Linked DNA regions of Homo sapiens. The protein of the gene in region 2 interacts with the protein of the main gene of each other region in a pairwise test. Each region holds a gene or a part of one and is shown on either strand. Other genes may lie near its edges. The genes, in order: CDIP1 and OTUD7B.

What was found.
Region 1: the proteins of OTUD7B (region 2) and CDIP1 interact in binary tests that used the Homo sapiens proteins (3 or more experiments, as listed by UniProt).

What each region holds. Positions count from the first base shown.
Region 1 is NC_000016.10:4,535,642-4,543,805, forward strand, and holds the start of CDIP1 (cell death-inducing p53-target protein 1), read right to left. Parts: upstream 3,133-8,164; 5' UTR 3,061-3,132; exon of another isoform or gene 2,960-3,060; intron 2,789-2,959; exon of another isoform or gene 2,684-2,788; intron 1-2,683. UniProt on the Homo sapiens protein: Acts as an important p53/TP53-apoptotic effector. Regulates TNF-alpha-mediated apoptosis in a p53/TP53-dependent manner.
Region 2 is NC_000001.11:149,965,625-149,972,893, forward strand, and holds part of OTUD7B (OTU domain-containing protein 7B), read right to left. Parts: intron 5,628-7,269; coding exon 5,439-5,627; intron 1,898-5,438; coding exon 1,670-1,897; intron 255-1,669; coding exon 153-254; intron 1-152. UniProt on the Homo sapiens protein: Negative regulator of the non-canonical NF-kappa-B pathway that acts by mediating deubiquitination of TRAF3, an inhibitor of the NF-kappa-B pathway, thereby acting as a negative regulator of B-cell responses.

The DNA.
Region 1 (8,164 bases), on a different chromosome or scaffold from region 2:
GCCCTGGTCCCAGGACACCACCAATGTCATGGACCACTGCCTGATGACTCACAGAGTAGGAGAAGTGGTGACCGGGGCCATCAGGCCCACGGGTTCAGGAGCCACCAGACCAGTGTCTCCAAGAGTGGACAGCCCTCTGGGCATGGGGAGGTTCTGGCCCAGGCCCTAGGCGCCTCCACCTCTGCTGCACTGTATTGCAAGGTAGCCTTTACCACCTCCCACAGAGACTGTGGCTTGGAGACTCCTGACTAGGCAGAGACAGAAACAGAAACTTTTTGTGGGATCCTAGAAAGGGGCACATTTCCATTTTGAGTAATCTATTTCCAAGTCCCCTCGTGGGGGAAAGGGAACCTCCTGTCACCACTGCCGGCCTGGCTCTCTCTCTCCATCCTCCCCATGGAGCGCCAAGGTCCTCTGCAGAGCTCTCCCTGCCTGCCACCTTCTCACCAGCACTTCCTCCACCTACAGGACAGTGACATGCTATAAAATGCCACAACTTTAACTACCATATTTCCCTGTGTCTTCTATGAGTAAAAACATGTCCTTACCCTTGGAACCATGTTCCTCAAAGTGGAGACAAATTTTCACAGGGCCTATCTTTTCTCTCCCACTCAGGCAACTGAGTAGGGTGAAGGGCTGGTGTTTGTGGCTAAGGAACAAAGTACCTGGGCCCAAGGGTCTCAAAGCCACGGCCTCTAGTCCATCAACACCATGAGCTAAATTGCACTACACACCCCAGTTCCCCTAGACCTTAGAAAACACACACTGAACTGGTAGGTTCAACCTGGACAAGCTTACAGTGTAAAGAGCCGACAGGGAGTTGCAAGCTGATGACTAGCTTCAATTATTGCCAACGTGATCTGCTGGGGCAAGCTGGCCTTCGGGACGCATTCCGTTAGCTCCTTCTCAAAACAATTTTGTTCCCTGAAGTATTACTTTACATCATACAGTCAATGTTCTGCTCTTATGGTGATTCTAGAACCACGGCTGGCTGCTCTTAAATCCTTGTAAGAACTTGGGCACGGTAGCTCCTGCCTGTAATCCCAGCACTTTGGGAGGGTGAGGCAAGAGGATCACTTGAGCCCAGGAGTTAGAGACCAGCTGGGCAAAATAATGACATGCCATCTCTACAAAAAAAAAAAAAAAAAAAAATTAGCCGGGCATGGTGGGGCATGCCTGTAGTTCCAGGTACTCAGGAGGATCGCTGGAGACAAGGAGTTCAAGGCTGCAGTGAACGTCGTGACGGCACCGCTGCACTCCAGCCTGGGCCACAGAGCAAGACCCTGGCTCTAAATAAATAAATGAACCTTTGTAAGAGAACCTGTAAAGCTCTTCCCTGGTTCTCCCATCCTGTGGAAAACCTCCGAACTCCTTCAAATTCTCAAGGGTGAGAGACGGATTTCTAAATACCCAGGGCTTCCATTAAGGTAAAAACCATTAAGAAGATAAAAAAGTCAAACCCAATAAACAACAATTCTAAGACTCTAATTAATGACATGCATGCTTATTTGGGAGGGAAAGGCACTGATATCTGCAACTTACTTTGACACAAAAAACAAGAGGGACTGCTGGTTGGACAAATATGTGATGAAATACAATAAAGTGTTAACTCTACATTCTAGGTGGTGGTCTGTGGGTGTTCACTGTAAAATTCCTTCAACTTTTGTATGTTTCACGTTTTTCGTAACTGAATGTGTAGAGGGGGAGTCTTCTGAGACTGGCAAGTGACTGGGCATAACCTTTCCGATTAAGGGCAGAGGGCAAGGCAGAGCTGGCACGCCTCCCTCCACCCAGTTCTACCTAGATCGGCCCCAAGGGAAGCAGCAAAGAACCCAGGAGAGCAGTAACTTGCCCGGGCACCGCCCCGCCCAGCATCAGGCCCCAGAATACAGAAGAAACTGGCAGAAACACTATGGAACGTCCCTGCCCCCGGGCCCGCCAACCCCCTCACTGGGACAGGTTCTCAGCCCCAGCTGCGCCCGGGAATGATCTGGGGAGCCTACTAAATGCAGATTCCTGGGCAGCGCGACGGAACTACAGCATCCCAACACCTGGGGTGGGCCCCAGGAATCTGCCCGTTTCCCAAGAGCCCCAGGTGGTTCTGACGCAGAGGATCTTGAGCCCACCTTTGGAGGAACTCACAGCCACTCGCCCCACCTCATCTAACACCTGTTGAGAAGCCCCCCAAGGAACTCGCTAAGCCAAGGTCCTCGAAGGCGCGACTCCTAGCCCCAAGCTAGGCCAGGCCGTCGCCATCTCCGCCGGGGATGCGCGGCCGAGCGCCACATCCCGACTCCACACGTCGGCGAGCCGGGCGCGGGTGCAGGACACTGCTGGGCTCCGGGACGGCCAAGGTCACCCGCGGGGCTCGGCAGGGGCTGGCTCGGCCACGGGGCTCCTCCTCGACCCCCTTTCCTTGAGAAAACAACTCCCACCCCTCCCCTCCCCGTCTCGCCCTGCAAGACGGAGATGGCAATTTCCACAACCTTCCCTGACGGAAAAACGTGCGGGCGAGCAGGCTGCCATTCCGGGCGCACAACCCCGCGGCACACAGCGGGGCGCCCGCCCGGGCCCCGCCACCGCAGCGGCTTCGACATCCCCAGGGCCGCGCTAGGTCTCGGCAGCGCCCTGAGGGGAGGACGGGCCCCGCCATGCCGCGCCCCAACCGCCGGCCCCGCTTTACCTCCAGAAGCCCGGTGCCCGAGGCCGGCCGAAAGCGGAGAGGGGCCCGGGTCCGGACAGGCGCCGGCAGAACAAGACCCTCAGCCCCGCGCGGCTTTGCGCGCACAACGAAACCCCCCAACCCACCGCCCACCCCACCGCCCAGAGGCTTCTAGGACTTGTAGTCCGCCCGGTCACCCCCCCCACCACAACCCGCTCTGAGAGGCTGGGGACTACGGTGCCCGGCATGCACCGCCCAGGCGCCGCGGGCGGGGGCGGGGAGGGGGCGCCACGGTCCGAGGTCACGCCCCGACCTGAGGAGAGCTGGCGCCCAGACCCTTCCCCCGGGGAGGAGGGCTCCCGCGCGAAGCCGTCTCCGAATGCGTCCAGTCGACTCACCGTCCCCGCAGCCCTGGGGCAGCGGCCGCAACAGCAGGACCGAACGCCTCGGCAGCTGGCAGTCGCACTTCTGTCACAAGGAGGCGGGTAGACTTTGGACCAGGGCCGAGGCCCGGGACGTCACGGTGGGGGGTGGGGTCTCGGGAGGCACGTGATGCGCCGTGATGACGTCAGTGGGAGCGGAGGCGATTTGGCCTAGAGCTGGGGCTGAGCACGTGGGATGGTCGGGGCCTGTTTGCCCAATGTACACGAGGCTGGAGAATAGGGAAAGAACCGTCCCTGTGAGCGCCTCCTCTTCACTCATGCCAGCAACAGGGCAGGGCATCTTCCTCCAGGGCTGCATTTTTTCTTTTATGCGACTAATATTTATTGAGTTTGGGAGGTGCATTACATAAAACCTTGAACCACACGGTCACTGTCCCTGCGCTTGAAACTGCCTTTGCAAAAATTACAACAGAAAATTATGACAGTGAAAGAGAGCTGACCTAACCCACTCCATCTTGCTTCTAACCTCCAGGTTGTCCTTGTTCATTCCTAGGCATAGGCAGAACTAACTTTGGGAGCAACTTAGTTTATAGTTTAATATTGAAACAAAGATAGTTAACAGCCCTTTCCCAAAACAAACCCCCTTGTTGCCTGAGAACCAGGCTTCCTTTGTAAGAGTAACACGTTAGCTACAAGATTAGACATTATAGTTTAGGGCCCAGCTCAGTGGCTAACGCCTGTAATCCCAGCACTTTGGAAGGCTGACGCAGGTGGATCACTTGAGGTCAGGAGTTTGAGACCAGCCTGGCCAACATGGTGAAACCATGTCTCTATTTAAAAATACAAAAATTAGCCGGGTATGGTGGCACGCACCTGTAATCCCAACTACTAGGGAGGCTGAAGCCCAAAAATTGCTTGAACCCGAGAGATGGAGGTTGCAGTGAGCTGAGATTATGCCTCTGCACTCCAGCCTGAGCAAGAGACTGAGACTCCATCTCAAAAAAAGAAAGAAAGAAAGAAATTACGGTTTAGGAGTCATGCACCCAGAGGCCACAAGATTCTAAACCTCCCCAGTTGATCCTAGGTATAATATCACTATTGTAAAACCTAAGATTGGTACTCTTAGGTGTTTTTCTGACCCTGCAGTCTGATGCACCAGCCAAGGCCACCTAGAGCTGTAATCTGACTCAACCAGTTCTTGCATCCTTCAACACCCTGTGATTTCATCTCCCACCCCACCAATCAGCACTCCCTACTCCTTGGCAGCTTATCTACCAAATTACCCTTTAAAAACTCTAGGCTCTGAATTTCCAGGGAGACTGATTTGAGTAATGAAACTTTGGTCTCCCATTCAGCCAGCTCTGTGTGGATTAAACTCTTTCTCTATTGCAGTTCCCCTGTCTTGATACATTGGCTCTATCTGGGCAGCCAGGAAGAAGAACCCACTGGGTGGCTACTTGCTCAGGTACTTCCTTTGTTACAGACAGTATACAAGGAAACCACAAAATGCCCAGGACTGTGAAGGAGAGGAAGGGACGCCCTAACAGAGTTACGGGGTGGTGCCACTAGACAGGTTGGTTAGAAAAGGCCTCTCAGAGGAGGCGATGCTGAGGCAGGGGCATGAAATTGAAAAGACATTCTATTCTGGAAGGGCATTCCAGAGGGAGGGATTGCCTTGGGTGAGAGAGTCAGAAAGGTGAGGATGTCAGTGGGGCAGGCTGGATCCAAGTCATGTTGAGATTTGTAGGTCATTTTAAGAACTCTGGCCAGGCGTGGTGGCTCATGCCTGTAACCCCAGCACTTTGGGAGGCCGAGGCAGGCAGATCACTTGAGGTCAGGAGTTTGAGACCAGCCTGGCCAACACAGTGAAACCCCGTCTCTACTAAAAATACAAAAATTAGCCCGGCATACACGCCTGTAATCCCAGCTATTCGGGAGGCTGAGGCAGGAGAATTGCTTGAACCTAGGAGGCAGAGGTTGCAGTGAGCCAAGATCACACCACTGCTCTCCAGCCTGGGAGACAGAGCAAAACTCTCTCAAAATAAAATAAAACTCTGGATTCTTCTTTCTTTTTTTTTTGAGATAGGATCTTGATCAGGCACCCAGGCTGGAGTACAGTGGCATGATCATAGCTCACTGTGACAACTCCTAGGCTCAAGCAGTCCTCCTGCCTCAGCCTCCCAAGTAGCTGGGATTACAGGCATAAGCCACCATACCTGTCTGCAGTTTGGATTTTTTTTTTTTTTTAGATGGAGTCTCGCTCTGTCACCAGGCTGGAGTGCAGTGGCTCGATCTCGGCTCACTGCAACCTCCGTCTCCCAGGTTCAAGCAATTCTCCTGCCTCAGCCTCCTGAGGAGCTAGGACTATAGGTACCTGCTACCACGCCTGGCTAATTTTTGTATTTTTAGTAGAGACTGAGTTTCACTATGTTGGTCAGGCTGGTGTCGATCTCCTCACCTCGTGATCCGCCCGCCTCTGCCTCCCAAAGTGCTGGGATTACAGGCGTGAGCCACCGCGCCCGGCCTGGATTTTATTTCAAGTGGAATTTAAAGCCCTTGAAGAGTTTTAAGCAGTAGAGTTACAGTCAATCTTCATTATTTATGGATTTTGTGTTTGCAAATTTGCCTACTCACTAACATTTATTTCTAATCCCAAAATCAATACTTGTGGTGCTTTCTCATTCATTCATGGACATAACGATCCTGCACATTCTCCACTGAGGTCAAATAAGGCAACACTGGGCTGTCATGGTGGCACTCGCCTTCTATCCCAGCCACTCGGGAGGCTGAGGTGGGAGGATCCCTTCAGCCCAGCAGGTCGAGGCTGCTGTGAGCTGGGATTGTGCCACTGCACTCCAGCCTGGGCAACAGAGTGAGACCCTGTCTCTAAAAATAATAGGGCAGCGCTGCCTACAAGTCTCCTTTTTGGTCTATTTAGTGTCATCTTTTTCTCATTTATTTTTACGCTTTTTATTGGTGATTCTGGTGTTTAAAATGGCCCTTAGTGTTGTGCAGAAGTGCTGTCTAGCATTCCTCAGTGCAAGAAGGTGGTGATTTGCCTTATAGAGAAAACAGCTGTGCTCAGTTAGCTTGGTGCAGGCAATTGAGTTCAATTGCACTGAATCAACAGTGTATATTAACTAAGTTGCCTTTAAACAGAAACACCTATAAACAAGGTTATTGATTGGTTGACAAAAATGTTGTGTCCACAGGCTCACAGGAACCTAGGTTGTTCCCCCAGAAGCAGTGGTTCAGTGTTTGCTTAATTCAGTGTTTGTGGCCACTTATATGATTCGATTGACATTTCACAGGATCATCTGACTACAGTGTGGAGAATGGTTTAGACCAAGAGAGGCAAATAGAAGGCTGGGCGACCAGCACATATGTAATCCAGAAATTTCCAGGCTGGTCCCTGTGGCTCACACCTGTAATACCAACATTTTGGGAGATTGAGTTCAAGAGTTTGAGACTAGCCTGAGCAACATAGTGAGTCTCCCATCTCTACAAAAAAATTTATAAAATTAAAAAATTAGCCAGCTGTGGTGGCTCATGCCCATAGTCCCACCTACTCAGGAGGCTGAGGCAGGAGGATCACTTGAGCCCAGGAGTTTGAGACTGCAGTGAGCAAGAATTGCGCCATTGCAGTCCAGCTTGAGCAACAGAGTTAGACTCAGTCTCTAAAAAAATAAATAAATAAAAATTTGAAAATAAAAATTTCCCAGTAACCACATTAAAAGTATAAAAAGACACAGGTGAAATTAATTTTAATAATACATTTAACTCAATATATGCAAAATATTGTTTCAGTAATCAACATAAAAAATTATCAGCCAGGCGCAGTGGCTCATGCCTGTAATCCCAGCACTTTGGGAGGCCAAGGTGGGCAGATCACCTGAGGTCAGGAGTTCAAGACCAGCCTGGCCAATATAGTGAAACCCCGTCTCTACTAAAAATACAAAAAATTAGCTTGACATGGTGGCAGGCGCCTGTAATCCCAGCTACTCGGGAGGCTGAGGCAGGAGAATAGCTTCAACTGGGAGGCGGAGGTTGCAGTGAGGCAAGATCACACCATTGCACTCCAGCCTGGGCGACAAGCAAAACTTTGTCTCAAAAAAAAAAATTATCAATGATATATTTTACTCTTTTTTCACACTGTTTTTGAAATGCAGTGTGTACTTTATATTTACAGGACATCTCAATTTGGAGCAGTCACATTTCAGGGGCTCAGTAGCCACATATGGCTTGTGGCTACTGTATTGGACAGCACAGATCTAGAATATTTATTCATTTACTCATTTGACCAAGCAAGGTCCTGTTCTAGGCCTGGAAATACACAAAATGGAATAAAGCCCCATCTCTGTCCTCAAAGCGCACACAGTCCAGCACGGGAGACTAATATAATAGCTTATGTTCAAGATGTCAAAACAGAGTGCTTTGAGAGTTCAGGAGAGGGAGTGCCCGAACAAGGAAGGCTTCAGAGAGGAGGACGTTTAAGTTGGGGCTTGAAGGATGTGTAGGATTCCCCAGGTGAAAGAAGTGGGGTAGGGTACTCCAAGTAGTTAGAGCTGCTAATGCAAAGTTGCAGAGAAATGAAACACAGAGTGTGTGGGGAAATGCAAGCAGTTCTGTATGGTTGGGTGGTAGGATATGAAAGAGGAGGGCAGAGGGTGAGGAAACATGAGGGCCTTATAGACCAATCTGTGGAATTTAGACTGTATCCTATTGGGTAGGTAGTGGGTGATGTAATGTTGAGAATTTTGGGCTGAGTAATATGACTAGATTCTTGTTTTATTTTAATTAATTAATTAATTTATATTAAAATAGAAACAGGGTCTCACTAGGTTGCCAGGCTGGTCTTGAACTCCTAGGCTCAAGTGATCCTCTCACCTTGGCCACCCAAAGTGCTGCGATTACAGGCATGAGTCACCATACCTAGCCATGATCCGTATTTTATTTATTTATCTTTGTTTTTATTTTTATTTAAATTTTATTTTATTTTGGGACAGAGATTGCAGTGGCGCGATCTTGGCTCCCTGCAGCCTCTGCCTCTTGGCAAGCGATTCTTCTGCCTCAGCCATCCAAGTAGCTGGAATTACAGGCACATACCATCACAACTGGC
Region 2 (7,269 bases):
AACACACAGACACACACGTAAGCATGCACAATCTCGCTCTGAACCATCATTTCCGCCTAAGATCAAGGTTATCTGGATCAAGTCCTACACATGAGATTTGACTCAACTGCTTCCTTTCTGCAGGTGAATGGAGGACTGCTTTCAAGACTCACCAAGGGAGGCTGCATGCAGGAGGCAGTTCCCATCTCCAGTAGTTGCCAAAGGAAGCAGCCTCTGAGAGGTGGGATCCACACTCACCCACCAGTTCAAACGCCCTGTAGAAACAAGATAGTGGAGGAAAAGGAGATTATCCATGAAGCCCTTCCACCTTCCTATTTCTGAAACAGACTCCAAAGCAGCCTCCTCTAGGAGGCCTACCCAGAATAAAACCATCACTTGATTACTCTTTATATCTTCCTCACTTATATCTAGTCAGTCAGAATCTTGTGAGCACAATTGGTTAGATCAGTGAGTAGGGTCAATTTTGTCCCAAAGGGACACTGGCAATGACTGAAGATATGTTTGCATGTCACAACTGGTAGCAGGATGCTACTGGTATCTAATGGGTAGAGGCCAGGGATGCTGCTAACCATGATATAATGCACAAGGCAGCTTGCAAAACAAAGAATTATCTAGACCAAAATGTCAATAGTGCCAAGGTTGAGAAACCCTGGGTTAAATGACGAGGCCAAGGACATAAGTTGAAACTGTTGACTGCTTGGACTGGCCCTGATTCCTTCCCTCCACTCAGGAGACCAGTATGTATCACAGCAACAAAGCTCAGCAAAAATCCATCATGAACAAAACAAAAACAACTCAAAGCATGTATTTAAGGTGTTTTATGAGTATCATCTGCATATATGACAGCATGTCATCACGTGTGGGGTGTGACTTTAAAGGAATGAGCAATAAGATAAAGTACATAAAATATCCAAGAAAATAAGTCTTAATTCCATGCAGTCATCCCACAATTGCCAACCCATTATTTACATGAGGAAAATATCTTATGAGTGATGCATAAGTTTTCTTGAACTACTGTGGAGCATAGTTTTTGAACTACTGAATGAAAAACTGGCTTATAAACTCCCCAGACCAGATAATTTACCAACTTAAAAAAAAATTACAAATAGATGTATATGGTTAATATAGAAGGTTACAAAATGAAAAATAAAAGCTTCCTTTCCATGCCCTCATCTAACTCCAGTTCTTATCCCACACAAGCATTTTAATGCCTGATTAGCTTTTCCAAAATTCCCAGCTGCCTCACCCTATGATAAGAATTAATTTTAACAATAATTTAAGATAAACACAATTACAAACGTAAATACATTTGGGGGGATAGGTTCACTACTGTGCATCATCTACAGCATTGGTCATTTCTGTTCACAAGGGTGTTCCAGGGCCAATTATAATTAGTTGTATTTTTTTCATGTATTGATTTCGAGGTATTGATTCCTAGGCCTTTTCACATGTGTATCTGGTTTCTCTTCCATCAACCAGGAAATTCCCAGAGTAAAGTATCTAATCTGTATCCATTCTTTGACAGCACAAGTTTATCCCACTGACTCCTGACTTTGCAATCAGATAACACACTTAAACTGGAAGCTAGCGATCAAGTCCAGCCCCTCCACAAGGCTGCCTGTAGGTGGAGAGTAGAGGGAAGAGTGTGGGAGAGGAAGCACTCACTGACCTGCCTGTTCCAAGGCAACCAGCATGGACTGCTCAATGAGGTCTCTCTCTATGAAGCTGCGGAAGTCTTCATTGTATACAGTGAGATCTGGAAGCTGGAAGGCACAGATGGGCATTTCCAGGGGGTGCTCATTGCTCCCCCCACCCCCACCATTGGAGGAGACATGGGACCGGGCCAGGGAAACAATGCTGGAGCTGGCGTGGGAGATGCCCCTAGACAGGCGTTTTTCTGCAATGAGAAATGGAGTCACCTTAGAACATACACAGCCCACTTGGAGAACTCTACACTGATGTGGTGATAGTTACCTCTCAACAGGGTTTACAGTCAGAGAAAAACTAAGTCTAACTGACTACTGAATTTCAGAACCCTTTTTCTGAAGCCAAATACAATTGGAGAAATAGAGACAGTATTTTTGTAGGCACTCACATTAGCACCAAATTATTCATTCCTCTTTCTGCCCTTGTTTGGAATTTGCCTGATCTTCCCCTCCCTCTGACTGTCTTCCTCCACTTCCATATTTCCCAGTGTGATAGGGACCCATTCATTTAGCAATTTGGTCATTGTTTGGTGGGAGGAGAGGGAATAAGGGAAGTGAGGTTTCACTAGACTAGAGTTAGTCAAATAACCTCTCTGGTAATTCTCAGGGTCTTGGGAAATACCTTTTCTAAAGGGTATTTTCATTCTAGAAAGATTATAAAAGAAATCCATTATAGAAAAGAAAATCCTTTGGGAGGCCAAGGCAGGTGGATCACCTGAGGTCAGGTGTTCAAGAGCAGCCTGACCAACGTGGTGAAACACTGTCTCTACTAAAAATACAAAAATTAGCCGGGCATGGTGGTGTGCCCCTATAATCCCAGCTACTCGGGAGGCTGAGGTGGGAGAATTGCTTGAACCTGGGAGGCGGAGGCTGCAGTGAGCCAAGATTGTGCCACTGCACTCCTGCCTGACAACAGAGCAAGACCCCGTTTCAAAAAAAAAAAAAAAAGACAATCAACAACAAATCTTACACATTTGGGAACTTTCTTCCTACATCAATAACATTAATTTATATTGCTTACTACAACTACTCTCAATACCCATATTTATCAGAAATTTATAGGGACAGTCAATTCTTAACAGTCTATAGAGAACAATAATGTAGATAGTACCCCACATCATTTCATTTGTTTTGAATACATGACACTTGTAATTCCCAAGCAGATATTCCACTGTGATTATAATTTGCTCAATGTAGTATTACAGTTCATTTGTATGGCTTCAATTATGTAATGATTTAATGATGATCCAAAGGGGGCAAAATTTCAAAAGCATGTTGGGCTGTTCTTAATACAACATTTGCCAGATATGATACACAAAATAAACTGAGTTGTCTAAAGTTATCTTATAGTGATGTTATTTTTCAAATATTTTTTAGTTTTGTTTGTTTTTGTTCTTTGAGACAGAGTCTCGCTCTGTCGCTCAGGCTGGAGTGCAGTGCTGCAGTCTCGGCTCACTGCAACCTCTGCCTCCCAGGTTCAAGGGATTCTCCTGCCTCAGCCTTCTGAGTAGCTAGGATTACAGGCACACGCCACCACACCCAGCTAATTTTTTTTTTTATTTTAGCAGAGACGGGGTTTCTCCACATTGGTCAGGCTGTTCTCCTCAAACTCCTGGCCTCAGGTGATCTGCCAGCCTTGGCCTCCCAAAGTGCTGGGATTACAGGCGTGAGCCACCACACCCACCTTAAAAATATTTTTTAGGTATTCGTAGGCTGAGCATGGTGGCTCACACCTGTAATCCCAAAACTTTGGGAAGCCAAGGTAGAAGGATCACTTGAGCCCAGGAATTCGAGACCACCTGGGCAACAGAGTGAGACCTAATTTCTACAAAGAATCAAAAATTTAGCTAGGTGAGGTGGTGCGTGCCCATGCTCCCAGCTACTTGGGAGGCTGAGGCAGTAGGATCCCTTGAGCCTAGGAGGTTTAGGCTGTAGTGAGCTGTGTTCCACCAGCCTCACTCCAGCCTTGGAGGACAGAGCAAGACCCTGCCTCAAAAACAGTACCATGTGCCTATGGTAAAAAATCAATATACCATCAAAAGGTATAAAATGATTTCACAAGGAAGTCTTCTTATCATTCAAAATTCCTGATCCCTTCCCCAGAGGCAAACTTTTGTATCCTTCTAGAAATTTTTATGCATACAGAAGCATATACAGGTTTTGGCCGGGCACGATGGCTCACGCCTGTAATCCCAACACTTTGGGAGGCCGAGGCAGGTGGATCACAAGGTCAGGAGATCGACACCATCCTGGCTAATACGGTGAAACCCCATCTCCACTAAAAATGCATGTACAGCTTTTAAAATCATCTTTTAAAACGCAAATGAGAGTATACTACATACATTGCATTGTGTCTTACCTTTTTGAAAAAAATTATATATTTTTTTATATGGAGTCTCACTCCGTCACCCAGGCTGGAGAGCAGTGGTGCAATCTAAGAGGTTTACTACAACCTCTGCCTCCTGGGCTTAAGCAAGTCTCCTGCCTCAGCCTCCCAAGTAGCTGGGATTACAGGTGTGCACCACCATGCCCAGCTAATTTTTGTAATTTTAGCAGAGACAGGGTTTCACCATGTAGGCCAGGCTGGTCTCGAACTCCTGACCTCAGGTGATCCACCAGCCTTGGTCTCCAAAAGTGCTGGGATTACAGGTGTGAGCCATCATGCCCAGCCCCCTTCTGAATAGATTTTAGAAATTTTTCCAAAACAGTACACCAAGTTCTGCCTAATTCTTTCTAATGATTGCAGAGTATTCCACAACATGGATGATTACAATTTACTTAACCATTCCTTTACTAATGGACATTAAATGTTTTCAGGGCCAGGTGCAGTGGCTCACACCTGTAATCCCAGCACTTTGGGGGGCCAAGTCAGATGGATTGCCTCAAGAAAAAAAAAAAGTTTCAAGATTTAATTATTGTAAAATAATGCTGCTGTGAATATCCTTATATGCTGCATTTATGTATTTCTTTTTTTAATTTTTATTCATTTATTTATTTTTTTTTTTGTAGACAGAGTCTCACTGTGTCACCCAGGCTGGAGTGCAGTGGTGTAATCTCAGTTCACTGCAACCTCCACCTCCCAAGTTCAAGCAATTCTCCTGCCTCAGCCTCCCAAGTAGCTGGGATTATAGGCATGTACCACCACGCCCAGCTAATGTTTGTATTTTTAATAGAGATGGGGTTTTACCATGTTGGCCAGACTGGTCTCGAACTCCTGACCTCAGGTGATCCACCCACCTCGACCTCCCAAAGTGCTGGGATTACAGGTGTGAGCCACTGCACCTGGCCTTATGTATTTATTTAGAGAATACTTATGTGCACATACACATATATGATAAATTGCTAGATATGAAATTGCTAAGTCAGAGTACATATGCATTTTAATTTTGATAGATATTGGCAAATATTAACAAATTACCCCCCAAAGAGGTAATGACTCTTTCAATTCTACCTTTATGTGAACTTTATATCAACAAGGAGATTGTTATCCTCCTTCCTCTATTTCTTTCACAGTATCTGAGGAAGGCTTTTATACAGGATAACACTAAAGATGCAGAGACGCAGTGAGGGACTGCAGCACCTGGGCAGACTGAGGCCACCTCAGTCTGGGTTTGGCTGGGAGAAGGGGAAGAAATGGAATCACCTCCAATGGATCACTAGACTTTATGACTCCATTTAACAATCCCCTCCCTTCCTACTCCATATACGGAAACATTCCAGTCACCCCAGTACCTTGAACGATGTCATCCTGCCGCTGGAGGATGGGTCGGGGAGGGCGAGTAGGCTCTCTGTCAGAAAACCCTTTTTCAGGGGTCCTGGAGCCACCACTCCCCTCACTAAAGGATGGGGGTAGGTTTCCAGCATGGACTTGACGTAGCTGTTCAAAATCACTGAGGGCGGCATTCACATCCCAATTCTTTCCTGTCAGGAGACAAAGCAAAAAGCAAACTGTGCAACCATAGTATAGAGACACAAAGATCACACTAACTATCCTATCAAAACCAGTATGCAAATACGCATGCACATAATCATTCTTCTTTTCCTTACCCTGCTTTAATTTTCTTTATAACACTTCAATCTAACTTATCAAATGTCTTTACTTACTTATTTGTTGTCTATTTCCTAAGTAAGTGCCATGAAAATAGAAACTTTGTCCCTCTGAACTAAAAGAGCCCTTAAAGATCTAGTAACCGAAAATTAAAACTTCCTTTTACAGATAAAGTCTAGAGAAGTAAATTATTTGCCCAAAGTCACAGCTAGTTCACACCAGACCCAGCAGGACTCAGGCCCAGGTCTCCTAATTCTGAGATCCAAAGAGGTTCTTAGCCTACATGTACTCTAGTGTGTCCTAAACCACTAAACCTGCATATAAGATCATGGGCTTGTGCATTTTCTAGTGAAAGAGTTCATAGCTGTCATCAGCTTTTCAAAGGAAACAGTGTTTCCCCCAAATTTAAGAATCACCATTCTACTAAAGAAATGACCTTAAATGATAAGATTTGTCATAATGGATTTTTCTGATGCTTTCTCCAGCTAAATTATTCAACAAATATGCATTGTATAATTGCTCACATTTCTTTCTGTTGTATTCCATCTACTACCACCTTAATTCAATTCCTATCACCTACTGTCCTACCTCCGATCCATTCCAAAGAATCCCATGAGATTAATCTTTCTAAAGCACAGTTGTGATCATTTTAGTTCCATAATCGAGATTTTTAATGGCTTACCACTGCCTACAGAATAAAACTCAGGCTCTTTGGCTTGATACTCAAGGCTTTGTATGTCCTGGCCTACTTTTCTGGCCTCTTCTCTGTGCTTCAATTTCCTTATCCGTGAAAATGCAGATGATAGTAGCAGTGCCTACCTCATAGAGCTGTTATGAAGATTAGATGAGTTGAAAGCACTTAGAATAGTGGTTGGTTTTACTCACAATTTTACGTCTAAATCATTACTGATGATTTTACTTCTAAATCATTACATTAGCCAATTGTTCTGACTCCCTTTGCTCACTCTGTTCCAGTCATCACTGACCTTGCTGTTCCTAGAACATGCTAAGTCCACTCTCACTCTAGGGCCTTTCCACTGACTATTCCCTCTACCTAGAAGGCTCTTTCCCCAATATATCCACACAGACAACTCCTCATTAGCTTTAGGTATTTGCTTAAACATCACATTGTTAGTAAGGCCTACCCTGACTTAAAAATCACAACCCACTTCATCATTCCCTTTACTCTTCTCCATAGCACTTAACAGTTTATAATATACTTTATAATTTACTTAGTTATCACATTTGTTGTTTATTGACCCTCTCTCCTGCTAGAACATGAAGGCAGGTATTTTTGTTTGTTTTGTTTTGTTGGAGCATCTAGAACAGTACCTGGCACACAGTAGTCACTCAATAAATATTTGTTGAATTAATGGATAACTCTTCTCCTGAATCAATGCATGAACGAGTGACATCTGCCTTGAGCATCGGATCTATACTTCCAACTGTCTGCAAATCTCCTTAAAATCAGGTCTTCCTAACAATCCACATGGCCAAATTGAGTATCCATCATTT